Regions from separate parts of the Homo sapiens genome. Here region 2 is linked to region 1. Evidence: fine-mapped expression QTL. A gene starts in region 1. The other region holds a variant in brackets. All regions are shown on one strand. Distances are between the middles of the regions.

Region 1 (8,315 bases):
CACTGCACTCCAGCCTGGGTGACAGAGCGAGACTCTGTCTCAAAAAAAAAAAAAAAAAAAATCCCACAGGACACAGGCTCTACGGGGAGCTGTCCTGATGCCCAGCATCCCCTGGAAGCTGGGAGGACCCCAGGAGGGGGATGTGGGTGATGGGGAGGTAGCAACTGCTGCTCATAGGCTGAGGGAGCATGAGCCAGCCATTTGGAAAAGCTTCCCATATAGGAGCTACAAATTGCAGAGGGACTAAAGGTTCAGTCAATTTAAAAACACACAAACCTTAAAAGAAAAGAGAACAGCTGGGAGCAGTGGTTCACGCCTGTAATCCCAGCACTTTGGGAGGCCAAGGTAGGCGGATCACGAGGGCAGGAGTTCGAGACCATCTGGCCAACATGGTGAAACCCTGTCTCTACTAAAAATACAAAAATTAGCTGGGTGTGGTGGCGGGCACCTGTAGTCCCAGCTACTCAGGAGACGGAGGCAGAGGAATTGCTTGAACCCGGGAGGCGGAGCTTGCAGTGAGCCAAGATCACACTATTGCACTCCAGCCTGGGCAGTGAGACTCCGTCTCAGAAAAAAAAAAAAAAAAAAAAAAAAAGGAAGAGGGAACTTAGTAGCTATGAAATCCCTAGAGAGAAGAAGATGGAAGAGTCTATATTAAGGGACTGAAAAAAAAAAAGCCACTAAGTAAAAATGTCTAACAGGCCACCAGGCAAAAGTAAAAAGCTCTCATTTGTAAAAAGAAAGTAAAAAATGTCAAAATACGCTATAAAACAAGGAATACAGGTAACAAATATGATACATGAAGGATTAATATCCATGTTACAAGACAACTTGACTAGGCCAGGTGCGGTGGCTGGCACCTGTAATCCCAGCATTTTGTGAGGCCGAGGTGAGTGGATCACTTGAGGTCAGGAGTCTGAGACCAGCCTGGTCAACATGGCGAACCTCCATCTCTGCTTAAAATACAAAAATTAGCTGGGCGAGGTGATGTGCGCCTACAATCCCAGCTACTTGGAAGAGTGAGGCAGGAGAATTGCTTGAACCCGGGAGGTGGAGGTTGCAGTGAGCCGAGATCACGCCACTGCACTCCAGCCTGGGCAACAGAGCAAGACTCTGTTTAAAAAAAAAAAAAAAAGGCAGCTTGACAATGTAGTCAATGTAGCAAAAATGACAAGACCACTTCCTAATACGCGAAAACCTTCAAGCTCACTAGAAAGGAAACTAGGCCGGGCATGGTGGCTCATGCCTGTAATCTCAGCACTTTGGGAGGCCGGGGCGGGCGGATCACGAGGTCAGGACATCGAGACCATCCTGGCTAACACGGTGAAACTGCATCTCTACTAAAAATACAAAAAAGTCAGCCAGGCAAGGTGGCGGGCACCTGTAGTCCAAGCGTCCCAGCTACTCAGGAGGCTGAGGCAGGAGAATGGCATGAACCCGGGAGGCGGAGCTTGCAATGAGCCGAGACTGCACCACTGCACTGCAGCCTGGGGGGCAGCGTGAGACTCTGTGTCAAAAAAAATAAAATAAAATAAAGAAAGGAAACTAAAGCTAACCCGGGCTGCGGAATGCGGCAGAGCAAGCACACAGACGCCCCCTCAACCGGCCACCCCACAACTCAGTACCAGGACCCTAGGACCAAGCTCAAGAAGTGGAGGCCTGGTGGGGGGAAACACGTCACACACCATCCATCAAGACCAGCAGGGCAGGGGGTCCTGGAGCACCCTGGTGGACCCACACAGGACCCCGTCCTTGTAAAGGGATGAAGGCAACTAAAACCGGGACCTTCCTGTGACTGTCGTTATGGCAAACAGGTGCGTGAAGAGACTCGGGCGCTATGGGGCCAGACGTCGGGAGTATGGGCTTACGGTGGTCGTTAACAATTCTCTCTCCAAATCTCCTAAAATGCCTCCCTATTACTTCTTTTCCCACAATATTTTTTAATTACGGTAAAACACACATAATATAAATATTACCAATTTCATCAGTTTTTTTTTTTTTTTTTTTAGAGATGGAGTCTTGCTCTGTCGCCCAGGCTGGAGTGCAGTGGCGTGATCTCGGCTCACTGCAAGATCCGCCTCCTGGGTTCACGCCATTCTCCTGCCTCAGCCTCCCGAGTAGCTGGGACTACAGGCACCCGCCACCACACCAGCTAATTTTTTGTATTTTTAGTAGAGACGGAGTTTCGCCATGTTAGCCAGGATGGTCTCAATCTCCTGACCTCGTGATCCACCCGCCTCGGCCTCCCAAAGTGCTGGGATTACAGGCGTGAGCCGCCGTGCTCAGCCCAACTTCACCAGTTTTTAGCGTGCAGCTCCGTGGCATAAATTACATCTGTGATGCTGAGCGGCTGCCTCCGGACTCGTCTTGTCTAACTGAAACTCTGCTCACTGAATAGGAACTCCCATGCCCTCCCCAAGCCCCCGGTAACCACCATTTTTACTGCTTTTTAATGTTTAAAAAGGAAGGATGAACGGGCTAGGGGAAGTGTAGCAATGTAAAACCTACTTCCTTCCATTTTCAAAAACCCGGCGAGTCCTCCTGGTTGCGGCAGCTGAGAGGGAAGCGGAGGGGATGACCCGGGCGCTGGGGCCTGCAGGCCCTGTGTAGGGCACCGAGCTGGCCTCCACCCAAGGAAAGCAGGGGACACGCTTGGACACGCACAGAACTCTTGGCTGCCTGCAGGGCTCTGGGCAGAGGACAGCCCCCTTGTCTGGGAGGCTGTAATTCCGAGGCCAGGGCTGCCTTCCCAATCACCTCAGGCAAGCAAATGAGGCAATGAGAGAGGGGACAAAGGCCCTGAGTGTCCCGCCTGTCACCATCAGAATGCAATGCGTGCCCCGCCAGTGTCCAGCTACTCCTCAGTCTGCTCTCCCAGCCACCGGCTCAGCCCCAAACCCAGGGTCATCCTGCTGGATGGTTCACAGCGGCCCTTGGGGAGGGCGTCCACACATCAGGGTCCTAGACGACCCTGCTCTCAGCCCCACTGACTCCACCACCCTCCTCACCCAACTCCCTGGGTCCATCAAAAAGACAGACTTTTCAAGCTTCGGTCAGTTAAGAATCAAACTCCATGTCACGACACATGTCACCACACACTGCCAGGGATGGACCTTCCAGCCTTCACCACCAGGGATGGGCCCGGGCTACACTTCCAGCCTGCGCCTGCACCGGGGTAGGGGTGCCCTCCGCGACACAGCGCCAGGGACGGGCCCGGGCTACGCCTCCAGCCTGTGCCTGCACCGGGGTAGGGGTGCCCTCCGCGACACACTGCCAGGGATGGGCCCGGGCTACGCCTCCAGCCTGCGCCTGCACCGGGGTAGGGGTGCCCTCCGCGACACACCGCCAGGGATGGGCCCGGGCTACGCCTCCAGCCTGCGCCTGCACCGGGGTAGGGGTGCCCTCCGCGACACACCGCCAGGGATGGGCCCGGGCTACGCCTCCAGCCTGCGCCTGCACCGGGGTAGGGGTGCCCTCCACGGCCACATGGGCAGCCCCCGCACTGCACTGAAGAGTGCTCCACTGTACACCAGGGTGACTTCATCTCAGTGACATCTGCAAAGAGCCATTTCCAAGTAAGGTCGGGTCCACAGGTACGAGGTGGACATGAATTTTGGGGGAGGACACTATTACCCAGCACACGCCCAACTTACAGATGCAGGAACCAAGGCCCGTCTACACACTGAGCATAGCTCCAGGCTGCACCTCAGGCCAGACCCGGGTCTCCCGACACCGCCCACCTGCGTCTCACCTGCACCTTCCGTCCTGCGTGCTGCAGCCGCGCATCCCCAACCAGACGGCCCCTGCCCTCCCCACTTCTAGCTGCCCATCCCCACCCCCTCCACGGTCCCTGGAGGAAGCCCAGCTCCTCAGCCTGCAGCCCAGCCGCTCTCCCCAGGACCAGCCCCTCCACCTGCACCTACAGGCCCACCCCTGGCAGCCCAGGGCCCCTGCAACTCCGAGCCATGCGGCCCTCTCAGATCGGCCTCCTCCCTCTCGGATGGGCCTCCCTCCCTCTCAGATCGGCCTCCCTTCCTCTCGTCCTGTCAGGTTCTGAGGGGCTTCCTGGGAGGCTCCTCCTCTTGCCGGCCCTCCTGACCAGGCCAGGTTCTCAGGAGGCCTCCACCCTTCCTCACTGGACCCCTGGCCCCGGGCTGCGCAGGTGCTTTACCGGTGGGGTCTGGCCTGCACCCGGCCTTGGGAGGGAGCCTGCCTTTCAAGATCAAGATGGCTCCAGAAGAGCACGTGGTAGCTGGGACCACTGCCCCAGAGAGTAGCAGCTTTTCCCAAGGCTGGGGCTTCCACTCAGATGGGCCCTACCATGTCCCCCTGCCCCCTGCCCCCTGCCCCCTACCTCCGTCTGTCTCAGATACATCCAGAAACACTCTTTCACTGTGGCTCCTTCAGGTCCTGGCCCAGAACCAGGATGTGCTACGAGGACCCAGGAACCATAGCCTCCAAGCCGCCCAACACCAGCAGGCACGGAGAGGGTGGTGTCTGCTGCCCTGGAGCCTGGAGGACTCCAGTCCTGTGCACCAGAGCAGGGCAGCAGGGCTCACCACGGCTGTCCAGGTTCTCCCAGGATCCCCCAGGCTCAGGGCGGCGCCCGGCCAGGCTCCAGGCCCTCTCTGCAAGCAGGACGGAATTGGGCCAGCCAGCCCTGGAACACAAAAGCATGCTGCTCTGGAAACCGCTGAATTGCTTCTGGACACACAAAGGCAACAGTGTCTAGGGAACCCTGGACTCAGAAACCGCAAAGGACTTTATTTCCCCTTCCCCAGCCCAAGATTTAAAAAAAAAAAAGTGGTTCCTGGTCTCTGGCGCTTGCCCTGAGCCGTGTCTCCTTCACACCATCTCCCCTGCTAAAGTTCCTCTCCGAGTTCTGGGTCCCTGGATCACAGCTGACCTCCACATCAGGGCCCGGCTGCTGGCACGCCCTTCATCCCCTTATTATCTGGCGGCTCTCCTGCTGATCCTGGGATAAACAGCATCCGCTTTCCCACAGCCGCCAGCCCTCCTAAGCAATGTCCCTGGGGGACTCGCAGATGTTGAGCGACACAGACACACCTCCCCCACCCCCACTGCAGTGGGCCCCAGCCCCCACCTGGCCCTCCTCCAAGTCTCAGTCCTCTAGGGAAGGTAGCCCCTAAACCTCACTGTCAGAAAGGCCTGGATGGAGGTTAGACCAGCAGCTGGACAGCCAACCTGGGCAGCTGAAGAGGACGTGAGGATGGGGCAGCTGGCAGACTCCAGGGCTTTGCAGAGTGAACAGGAGGACCGGGGGCGGCCAGCAAAGAAGGCCTGGTTCTACCAATACCCCATCGCCAGCCAGGCACCAGGGCTCAGGCCTGTAATCCCAGCACTTTGAGAGGCTGAGGTGGGCAATGCAGTGACACAGAAAGTGAAATAAGAACATGAGCCAGCGTGGTGGTACGTGCCTACAGTCCCAGTTGCTCAGAAGGTTGAGGCAGGAGGATCGCCTGGGAACCTGGGAGTTTGAGGCTGCGGTGAACCACGATCGTACCACTGCACTCCAGCCTGGGTGAGGGCCAGACCTTGTCTCTAAGAACAAAACAAAAACATCCACCCCAATGTCCCCATGCTTACAGCCACATACTTGCACCTCCCTAACTCCTGATGCAAAGAGGCCCAAGGACCCAGCACACACACAGCTCCCTGGGCCCTCTGGGGTCCTGAGACTGCAGATCCTGCCCTTCCAGCCCGTGCCCGACCTTGGCCACTATTGTTCCAACATCAGCCTCAAGAGGTCGGCTCACAACTGATGACATGTGTGCTGCCCCAAACTCAAGGCTTGTCCAGGAGTTTCATCCCCTCCCTGGATTCAGGCCTCAGTCCTGCCAGCTGGGCACAGTCAGGCGGCCTCAAATGCTGATGTCCGTATCCGGGTGTTTGGCTGCTCTCAACCCTGCCCCCTGACCTGGCCTCCCTGCAGGCTCCAAGCCGGACAGCTCACCAGTATCTCAACTATGCCACGCCTGGCACAGACTCGGGTCTCAAGGGGCACTCTGACTGGATGGCACCGTGTCCACCAGCTGTCTGGGTGAAACCCTCAAGAGCCCTTGATAGCCCCGTTCCTCACTCCACTGCCAACCTGCAGCGCACGCCGGCCGCACGCCTCCAGACGGGGCTGCACATCTGTCCACCTCTCCCCACGACCCCAGCCTGGTCCAGGCAGCCGCGTGCCTCCCCTCTCCCCACCACCCCAGCCTGGTCCAGGCAGCCGCGTGCCTCCCGAAGCCTTCTCCACATGGCAAGCATGGTGAGGCCTTCAAAGGCAAAATCAGCCTCTGCAGCGCCCCTGCCAAAGTTCTCCAGGGGCTTCCACGCACCCGGGTCAACACGGCTGCTCCCCCGACACCCTCATCAGCTCTGGCTCATCTAGGCTTGGCTGCAGCTCTGCCGACCCCCTTTGCAACCCTCCGACCACCGCCTCTGTCCCCACTGCAGGGCCCGACACGTTTGGCTCCGGGACGTCGCTCATTTGCCCCATTCCCTAGGCGCCGCCCGCTGTCATTCCACCATCCTGTTTGGTTTGACGTGGGGTCCTTGGATTGCCCTGATGGCTTCCTTGTTTAGCGCTTGTGCCTCCAGTCCTGCTTGGTTAGAACCCGCCTGGTGCTCCCCCGGGGCAGGGGCTGTGTCTGGCTAAGTCTCCAGGGGCTCGGCTCTGCCGGTGATGCTCAGGTGGACTCGAGCTGCAGGCACCCGAGTCTCCCTCTGCAGAGCTTGGCACGTGGTGGGCAGTGACAAACACTTGTTCAGAGAGTGAGGGAGCGACACACAAAGGCAGCCCAGATGCCACGGCTGGGGGGTCCCCGCCAGCCTGAGCCCGCAGCCACCAGCTGAGCTTTCTTTCCTCTGCCAGAGGCCTCAAGAGAAAGGGACACCCATGGACTAGGGACACCCATGGACTCTGCCTTGGGCCCTGCCAAAGCACAGCGTCCCTGAATACACAAAAACTTTTAACTACAAGCCTTCAGTGATCTGGGATGTTTCTCCAGGAAGAAACCTGAATTCCTTCCCTTGGCAAAGTATCTTCAGGCTTGAGTCATACGAGGGTCAGGCTGGAACCCCATGTGGGGAGCTGAGCCTTCTGCACTGTGACAGGGAAGCCACCCAGGGGGGCCAGGGAGCGGGCCCAGGGCTAAGCACACCCTGGGGTGCTAATGCCAGCACGGTGTATGGCCCGCTCTGGGGCCACTTGCCAGCGTGGCCCAGGAGAGACAGTCAGGAAGACTGGGAGGGCCAGGAGATGCCTACGTGAGTCTCCGCTTCTTCCTCTGTGTGCTGGGATCCTGCCCAGGCCTGGGGAGGAAGGAGCTGGTTAATGTTTAAGGACCCAACACAGAGGAACCTACACGCACAAGGGAACCTACACGCACAAGGGAACCTACACACGGGGAAACCTACACGCACAGGGGAACCTACACACAGGGGAACCTACACGTATGGGGGGAACCTACACCCAGGGGAACCTACACACAGGGGAACCTGCAAGCACAGGGGAAGCTGCACACACAGGGGAACCCGCACACATGGGAGAACCTACACACGGGGGAACCTACATGCTTAGGGGAACGTACACACAGGGGAACCTACATGCACAGCAGAACCTACACACGGGGGAACCCACAAGCACAGGGGAACCTACACACTGGGGAACTTACACATGGGGGAACCCACACGCACAGGGGAACCTACACACGGAGGAACCTACACGCACAGGGGAACCTACACACGGGGGAACCTACACACACAGGGGAACCTACACATGGGGGAACCTACACGGACAGGGGAACTTACACATGGGGGAACCCACACGCACAGGGGAACCTACACACGGGGGAACCCACACGCACAGGGGAACCTACACACGGGGGAACCCACACGCACAGGGGAACCTACACACGGGGGAACCTACACGCACAGGGGAACCTACACACGGGGGAACCTACACGCACAGGGGAACCTATACGCACAGGGGAACCTACACACGGGGGAAACTACACGCACAGGGGAACCTACACACGGGGGAACCTACACACAGGGGAACGTACACACAGGGGAACGTACACACAGGGGAACCTACACACACAGGGGAACCTACACACAGGGGAACCTGCACGCACAGGGGAAGCCACACACACAGGGGAACCTGCACACACGGGGGAACCTACACGCACGGGGGAACCTACACGCACAGGGGAACCTACACGCACAGGGGAACCTACACACAGGGGAACGTACACACAGGGGAACGTACACACAGGGGAACCTACACACACAGGGGAACC
Region 2 (8,315 bases), 36 kb after region 1:
TTAACAAGGCTCCAGGGCTTTCGGGAAGGCAGCAGCGACTGGAGGGACAAGGACACTGAGCCAGGGTCTCCCAGCTCTGAAAAGGTCCTCCCTGGAGCACCAGCAGGCTGGGGAGTGTCGCCCATCCAGGTCCCCCCGCCCCCTGCCGTCCCTGCTTCTCCCATCAGTACTGACGAAGCACCTGCTGCGTACCCAGCCCTCTGCCCAGCGCCACAGTTACGAGCTGTGGTTGCACTGCCACGGGCCAGCACAGGACATCTCAAATGTTTAAGAGAACTCTGCTGTCACCAACCTTACTGTGGGAGGGGGTGGGGAGACGCTGGCAGAGGCTGGGTCACCAGCCCCAGGCCCCACAGCTATGACAGGACCTGAGAAGAAAGGCTTCGGCTCCAGCCCAGCCCAGCCTGGGCCACATCCAGGCTCTGCCCAGCCCGGACCGACGCCAGTGTCACATGCCCTCCTGAGACCTGTGTCAGGGAAGCCTAAGGACCCCGGGGATGGAGAGGGCGGTGCTGGGGCTCCTGGATCAGGCCGGGGAAGGAGGACGGACGAAAGGGTGGGCACCCCGCAGCTCCAGGAGCACTGGCCACCCCTGCCCCCCAGCCAGGAACATCTTCAGATCGCTCATTCTCCAAAGGCAGCTGATGGCTAAGACTGCGAGGGACAGGGTGGGGCCTTGTAAAAGCTTAGAACGTGGCTGGCCAGAGGCCACAGCTCCCCTCTTGCCCTCTGTAGTGGTTTGACCCACTCCGCAGATACCAATATGAACAGCACTCGCCCGGGGAGGGTGCTCCAACAAGCCAGCCGGGTCTGCCCCACATCCACAGAGCTCAGCAGGCCTGCCACCTCCCTGCCCTTGCGTGGTGCTGCCTGGAGGGATGGAAGACGGACAGCCAGACAGGGACGGAGGTGTGCTGACCTCAGCTCTGCCCCTCCTGACCTACTGGCTCCTCATCCATCGGGTTGTGGGGGACGCTGGGCAGTCACTGGGGTTACCTGGCTTCTCCCATGCTCCTAGGTTCTCAAAGCAGATGGGGTGGCTGGGGGTGACCCCCCAGGGCCTGCCTATCCTGAGTCACAGCTCTAGATGTCCGGTTTAGAGAGAGACTCTGGGACAGAGCCCCCGAAGGCGGCTCCATGGGGCTCCACCAGGGCTGGGGCTGTCCCAGAGTCTCTCTCTAAACCCGACATCTAGAGCCAAGTAGACACCACCCACTCCCTCCCCGCCTGTGCCCCTCCTGACCAGGCCCTGGCCCCCTGGACCCTCAGGCCTTTTGCCAACCTGTGATGTGAGTGCGTCTGCCCAGACGGGGAGGATCAGGAGCCCTGTACCATCCTCCCGCGGCCCCACCCCGACGCCCGGGCTTCTGGCGCACACGCCTGTTTCACTTCCTCTCCACCAAACATCTGCCACCTCCACTGTTAGGCAGGTCAGGCTCCAGGGGCCAGCAACGACCACCAGTCAGTTCCACCTGTTTCAACCCTACCTCGGGCCAGTGCCTCTGGGTCCCTCCCTCCTGAGCTGGGGTTGGCTGAGTGTGCCTGCCTAGGCTTCTCCCACAGGACAGGACAGGACAGGACAGGACGGAGCCTTGCCCACTGACCCCCATCCAGCCCACTGGCCCCCCGCCCCGGCCTGGGCTGCCTGCCAGGTATGCTGCTGGTGGAGGCCCTCCCCCTCAAGCCTTTGTCAGACCCTGACTATCCCCCTAGTTGGAAGAGAAGGGCTACAGAAAGCAAGCAGAAGACACAAACCTGGGCACTGAAGCCGGAACAGGACCCCAAACGGCCTCCGCCTCCCAGAGCTGATGGCCCAGTGTCACTCCGGACGGCTGGGCTTTTGGAACAGACTTCCCCTTCCCACCCCCACACACTTAAACCTGACAGTTTCACTTCTTGGGTGGAGAATGTGTGAAATGATTCACACACCTTGCTGGGGTCCAGCAGTGGCTGGGGACACAATGTCACCTTCTACTCCGGAGCCCCAGATCACTGGCTCATCACAGCCCAGCGGGCACACACGCTCCACAGATCACAGGGGCCTCCACTCTCACAGGGTCCACTCCTGTTGTCAGCTGAGCATTCCCCCAGGGCAGGGGATAATCTACTTCATCAGGGTTCTGTGGCAAACAAGAGCCACTGGGCGCAGAGTGGGCTGAGAAAGCATGCGAGGAAGTAGGCGACCATCAGCACGGGCTTTGTCCAGCATCACAGGGTAGTTACGGTCCGGTTCTTCCCGGGTAAGAGGGTGGGTTCTGGGACACAGACGGGGTGTGGGTGTTGCTTCAGACTTTTAAACGCCAAACTCCCCACCCAGGGGCCAAGGTCTACACACACCTTTCTACCTCTGCCCATCCAGGTCCCAAGTGCCCTCAGAGCTGCAGGGCCTCAGCTCCCTCCTCATCAGCTGCAGGGCAGGAAGACAGAGGACCCTGCAGGCTGTCACTGCTCAGGCCAGGCTCACCCCAGGGCCGCTTTCCCCAGCAGACAGGTAGGGGTTCCCCCCAACTCATGTCCCAGCAGGGACAGCAGCCAGTCGCCCTGAGAAGCTGAGACCCCACCAGCGATTCCGCCACACCAGAGCTCTGGGTGCAGTAGGATACCTGGCTCCTTCGTCTGCCCCCTGAAGGCCCTCGTCTCTGTGTCATGGGGCTAGGCCCTCCCATGACCCCCACGTTTCCCCAACCCTATGGAGTGTGTCTAAGGAAGCAGGTGGAATTGGCCTGGCTCCCCCAGTCTGGGGCCTAGAGCAGAGCCCGGGGAGCCAGGGAGCCCTGGGCTGGGGAGGGGAGGGCAGACAGAGGAGGGGACAGAGCCCCTCCGAGCCAGCATCACCCGGCAAATGCCTCCGACCATCGCACCGGACTGAGCCAGCCCACCAATCTCAACCTGGAAAGCAGGGAGGCGCCAGTGGGGCCCAGTGAGGATGGGGGTGGGGCACGTGGGGCGGTGGGGAGGAGCCAGGGCAAGGAAGGAGACACGGTCAGCAGGAAGGCAGGAGGCTGGCCCCAGGTAAGGGCATAGGCAGGTGAGTGGGCCACCCCCTAAGCTGCATTCCCAAGAATGCTGGCATCCCCAGCGAGGGCAGCCCTGGCTCCCCGGGCTGTGCTCTAGGTCCCAGACTGGGGGAGCCAGGCCAATTCCACCTGCTTCCTTAGACACACTCCATAGGGTTGGGGAAACGTGGGGGTCATGGGAGGGCCTAGCCCCATAGCACAGAGACAAGGGCCTTCGGGGGCAGACAAAGGAGCCAGGTATCCCACTGCACCCAAGACGTGGCTGAACCTCAGTCCTAGCCCCAGAGGAGCCGCAGGCACATGCTGGTTGGGTCTCCAGGAGCCTTGCACAGAGGCTGACCTTTAACAAGCTGACCTGAGAGGCCGGTCTCAAGCCATCCCCACTCCTGTGTCCTATAAACTCCTGTGCCCCTCCCTCATCGCTCCAGGGAGCCCTCCTTGTCGCTCCCTCCCTGGCAGGGTCAGGCCCTTCCCCATCCCATAGACCAGGCTCTCTTTACCTTTCCACCTCCCACAAGCTCCCTTCCACCATGTGTGCCCTGAAGGCAGAAGCATCATTCAGGTGCCCCGGACAGGTGATAAGAGGCCAGCACCCCTCATGGGACCGCGAACACAAGGGTGAAAGTCTTGTATTCCAGGCAAGGGCCTTG[G/A]GGTGCTGTGACCGGAGGCTTCCTGGGTCTAGGGCCGAAGTTAACCCAACATCAAGAAAACAAGACAGGCAGCCGGGCGCGGTGGCTCACGCCTATAATCCCAGCACTTTGGGAGGTGGAGGCAGGCGGATCACCTGAGGTCAGGAGTTTGAGACCAGCCTGACCAACATGGAGAAACTCCGACTCTACTAAAAATACAAAATTAGCTGGGCGTTGTGGTGCGTGCCTGTAGTTCCAGCTACTCGGGAGGCTGAGGCAGGAGAATCACTTGAACCTGGGAGGTGGAGGTTGCAATGAGCCACGATCACGCCATTGCACTCCAGCCTGGGCAACAAGAGCAAAACTCCATCTAAAAAAAAAAAAAAAGAAAGAAAGAAAAAAGACAGGCTCCACTCAGATCCCCAAAATGCTGCCTGGAAAACACCGCCGACAAACCAGCAGACGAGGAGTGACCACCTGGTTCTCTCTCTTCCCAAAACTTCTGCAAGGGCCTGACGCATTCCTGAATGAAAGATGCTTAACAGAAAGCCCAGCAGATGCGGCTCTGTAGATCTTTTCAAAGGCCGTCCCCTGCCAGGGTGGCAAGTTCAGAGGCAGAGAGGGGACAGACCTGGCCAGGATGGAGTCGGAGATTTGTCTGAGCTCTAAAGCGTCCCGCCGGCAGCCTTTCTCCTCCTTCCCCGAGGAGGCCGGACTCTGGGATGCGTTCTAAGTCAGCCCCACTTTCACGTCTCAAAGCAACGCCAAGCCCGTGCCCGTCCCTGCGGGGCCGGGCTGACTAAGCACAGCAGGGAAGTCCCTGGTTCTCCTGCAGCCTCCCTCCCTTCTTCCCTCTAAGTCGTGGAATCATGTTGGGGAGGTGGCGGCCCCTCCCCAGCCCCAGCCAGCCATGCTGCGGCAGCATACCGGGAGCCCGGGCTCGAAGCCAAGGGATCGGGAACTGCTTCCCGGGGGGTCCCACTAACAACTCCAGTCCCACTACGCAGACACACCGGTACTAACAATTAAGTAGATGTGTGGCAAGCGGTGGGAGTCTGGCTTCCTGCTGCTTGAATAGACACGAATTGATCTGCAAGAAAGGAGACGAGAAAGATCCATGCAGGAAACGGATCAGAGTTCATCAGCGGCGCGAACTCACACTTTGCTCAATACAGGTACAGGAGGCTACACGCGGACACAGGCAGAGACACGTACATATGTGCGCGTCAGCTCACACGTGCATTTCCTTGCTGTCAGCTAAGAGGGCCCAGAAGCAATGACACCCCGGTAGTGATGAGCGTACCCGCCACCTGGATCTTGGTTTCCGATTCTGCCCTCCAACAAAAGGAACCCGGGCTCCCTGCAGAAGGGGCTGACTCTAGGCCTGGGCAGGGAATGGACAAGCTGAGCCTGGAGCATCTCACAGGGCCAGAAAGTGAGGAAGGACTCACACCACCCACCGTGAAGGGGTGCATCCAGGGAACCCGACGGCCAGCACTGGAACGAGTGAGCAAACAAAATAATGGCATTCCGCATTGACCTAGAGGATTAAATGAGTATCCACGAACCCACATGGATAAGTAAGCGGCTGCATAAACTGATAAATGGGGAGAAGAGACAGACCCCCCTGAAGAAGAAGGCCACATCAGTGACACAGCCACTCTGCCCTCAAGGAGGCAGGCGTGACTCCCCAGCCCTTAAGTGTGGCCGCGTGTAGTGACCTCCTCCCAAAGGCAACAGTACTGGAAGGAGGAAACACAAGAACTGCTGTGAAGACCCCTGACAAACACATCTCAGGTGGGTGGCCAAGTCAGCACCAGTAGCCGCGGGCCACATCGAAGGTATGCGCCTGGCGTGACGTGGTTAGAGGGCACCATGCCCCTGTGGTCTTCCTCCCGCTAAGCCAGGGCCCCAGTCGCACCATGAGAAATACATCCAAATTCCAACAGAGGAATTCCAATTGTTCAAACAGACAAATTCCAATGGATGGAGATCCCACAATACACCTACTATTTCTTAAGACTGTCAGAGTTATCAAAACTAAGAAAAGTCTGAGAAGCTGTCATAGCAAAGAGGAGCTTAGAGAGACATGACAGCTAGATGTCATCTGGGACCCTAGATGCAGTCTTGGAACAGAAAAAGGACATTAGGTAAAACCTAATGAATCTGAACAAACTATGTACTTTGGCTAATGATAATGTATCAATATTAGTCCATGGATTGTAACAAACCTATCATACTAATGTAAGATGTTAATCACCAGACAAACTGCAACTGTTGGTAGGGATAATTGGGAAACTCTGTATTATCTCTGCAATTTCTCTATAAATCTAAAACAGTTTTTTAAAAATAGAGTTGGCTGGGTGTGGTGGCTCACACCTGTAATCCCAGCACTTTGAGAGACCGAAGCGAATGGATCACCTAAGGTCAGGAATTCGAGACCAGCCTGACCAACATGGTGAAACTCCATCTCTACTAAAAATACAAAATTAGCCAGGCATGGTGGTGCATGTCTGTCACCCCAGCTACTTGGGAGGCTGAGGTAGGAGAATCGCTTGAACCCGGGAGGCGGAGGTTGTGGTGAGCTGAGATCGCACCATTGCACTCCAGCCTGGGCAACAAGAGCGAAACTCCATCTCAAAAGACAAAAGAGAGAGAAAGGTGGTCACCACAGGCAGGGAGGAAGGGTCCAGGGAGTGCCTAAAGTGTCTAGAAGGCCCAGGTTCCTGTTTGGGTTTCGATTGTGGTGATGGCTGCACAACTTGGTGAATGTACTAGAAGTCCGTGAACTGTGCACTTTCAATGAGTGTGTTGTATGATGTGTGAATTACACCTCAATAAAGACGCTGACAAACACACCTCAGCCAGGTGGCCAAGGTCAACACCAAGAGTGAGGAACAAACAAATTCACTCCCAGCCTGGCTCCTGGCCCTACCCAACTCCACAGCCCAGCTCAGACCCGAGCCAGGGTCCCAGGATACCAGGCATAATGAGGTGCCGCTCCAGGTCGCTGGACATGAGCAGAGACCCCTAACTTCAGGAGCCCACCTTCTAGAAGGGAAGCGTGGTAAACAGTAGACAAACAAGAACCTCAGGAAGAGGAGAGCAGTGACAGCAGAGGCACAGCTGGGGCACTCATGGGAGGCCTCCCTGGAGGGGGGACGTGGAGCAGAGAGGTCCCAGGAACGGCCGGCAGGGGAACCCACCAAGAGAGGCTGAGCCGTTTCCTGGAGCCTCCTAACCGCCCGCTGCCCAGCATTCAGCTTCTCCCACTGCAGCTTCTCGGGAGTTTGGTGGCACAGAGTCCCAAGCAGAGTCTCTTGTCCCTCCTGTTCCCCAGGGACAAGTAACAATTCACCAAGCACAAAGCTTCACGGTTTCCCAGCAGCCCCACGCTCTGCCTCCTTGGACCTCACTTCACAGAGGGCAGTGACTCGGCCACTGCAAAGTGCATCCCAGAAGCCCTCACTCCTCGACCACCCATGGCCTCCACACCCAGCCCCACCCAGCCCCAGCCAAGGCCCCAGCACTGCTCCTCAGTAGACCTGCTTCCTCTAGGGAAGTGGCAGCCAGGCCTCTCCACCCACCTGGGCCTCCCTGTGGGAGGTGGTGCAGACGCGGCCATCTCAGGCCAGAGCCAGCTCTCAAGCTCTGGCTTCTATACCCTAGGCCAAGGCCTTCGTTTACAGGTGACCAAACTGAGGCCCAGAGAGGTTAGGTGTCTTGCCCAAGAACACACAGCAGCAAGATCAAGCACGCTCTCCGCCCAACCCCCGTGCATATGGGGCTTAGGTTAGAAGCACAGCCCATTGGTCCAAACCCACCTCTACCACGCAGCAACCTGTGGCTCTGTGCCAGGGCTTCCTCCTGCGTGAAATGCAGCTAACAAGAGCACCTACCTCCAGTTGGTACGAAAATAAATCATGTCTCATGCTTAGAGGGCTGTCTGGCCCTGAGCAGGACATGCTGTCCGAATCTTGCTATTTACTGCACATTTGACAGCAAAAAGAGAAGTCTCATCATGACTTTGAGTTTATTGCTGATATTTCTCTCACAAAACCCCCCTTAGAGGAGGGTTATCAGGAAGGCAGAAAGGCTGCAATGTTTATGAGCATAGCCTTGGGGGCAAAGCCACCCACGTGCAAATCCCAGCTCTGCTCGGGAACGAACTGGGGACTTAGGCAAGTGGCACTGCCTCCCGGTGCCTCAGTTTCCTCATCTGTAAAATGGGGTGAAGCTGTGTGCTCTGCAGACTTGGTTGAGACAATTCGTGTGAAACACTCAGCGCAGGCCTGCTGTGCAGAATGAGTGATTTCTATTACTATTATTAATGTTTTTGATAGGCCGGTACTTCCTGCCTTTCCTGTGTAACCACAGGGGACTTTAATCACTGGGCTTAAACATAATCACAACCCTAGGTTATAACTCAAACACCAAACAATCAGAACAGTAGCCCTGTAGACGGGACTGTCATTAGTGGCGAATTACCAGCCCAAAGTGTCCGCCCAGGCCTCTGCCACATGCCGAGATACCAAAGGCAAAACAACAGGGCTTTCTCCAATTAGGGAAACACGCATTTTCTTTTTTCTTTCTTTCTTTTTTTTTTTTTTTTTGAGATGGAGTTTCGCTCTTGTTGCCCAGGCTGGAGTGCAATGGCGCGATCTCAGCT

What was found. PIP is the estimated chance that this variant, and not a neighbour inherited with it, causes the effect.
Region 2: its variant is fine-mapped to the expression of GRAMD4 in whole blood (TOPMed, PIP above 0.99).

The regions. Positions count from the first base shown.
Region 1 is chr22:46,616,605-46,624,919 of GRCh38, reverse strand. GRAMD4 (GRAM domain containing 4) reads right to left here and starts at 4,534. Exons shown (of 19, transcript NM_015124.5): 1 at 4,355-4,534. RefSeq lists enhancers at 2,795-3,306, 5,735-6,502.
Region 2 is chr22:46,580,912-46,589,226 of GRCh38, reverse strand. It overlaps a transcript of GRAMD4 not described here. Among named protein-coding and RNA genes, the nearest start is that of GRAMD4, 35 kb to the left of the region's middle. RefSeq lists silencers at 1,052-1,101, 1,452-1,501 and enhancers at 1,992-2,979, 3,968-4,955, 4,956-5,945, 6,482-6,581, 7,300-7,379. The variant G/A (reference allele first, on the strand shown) is at 3,668.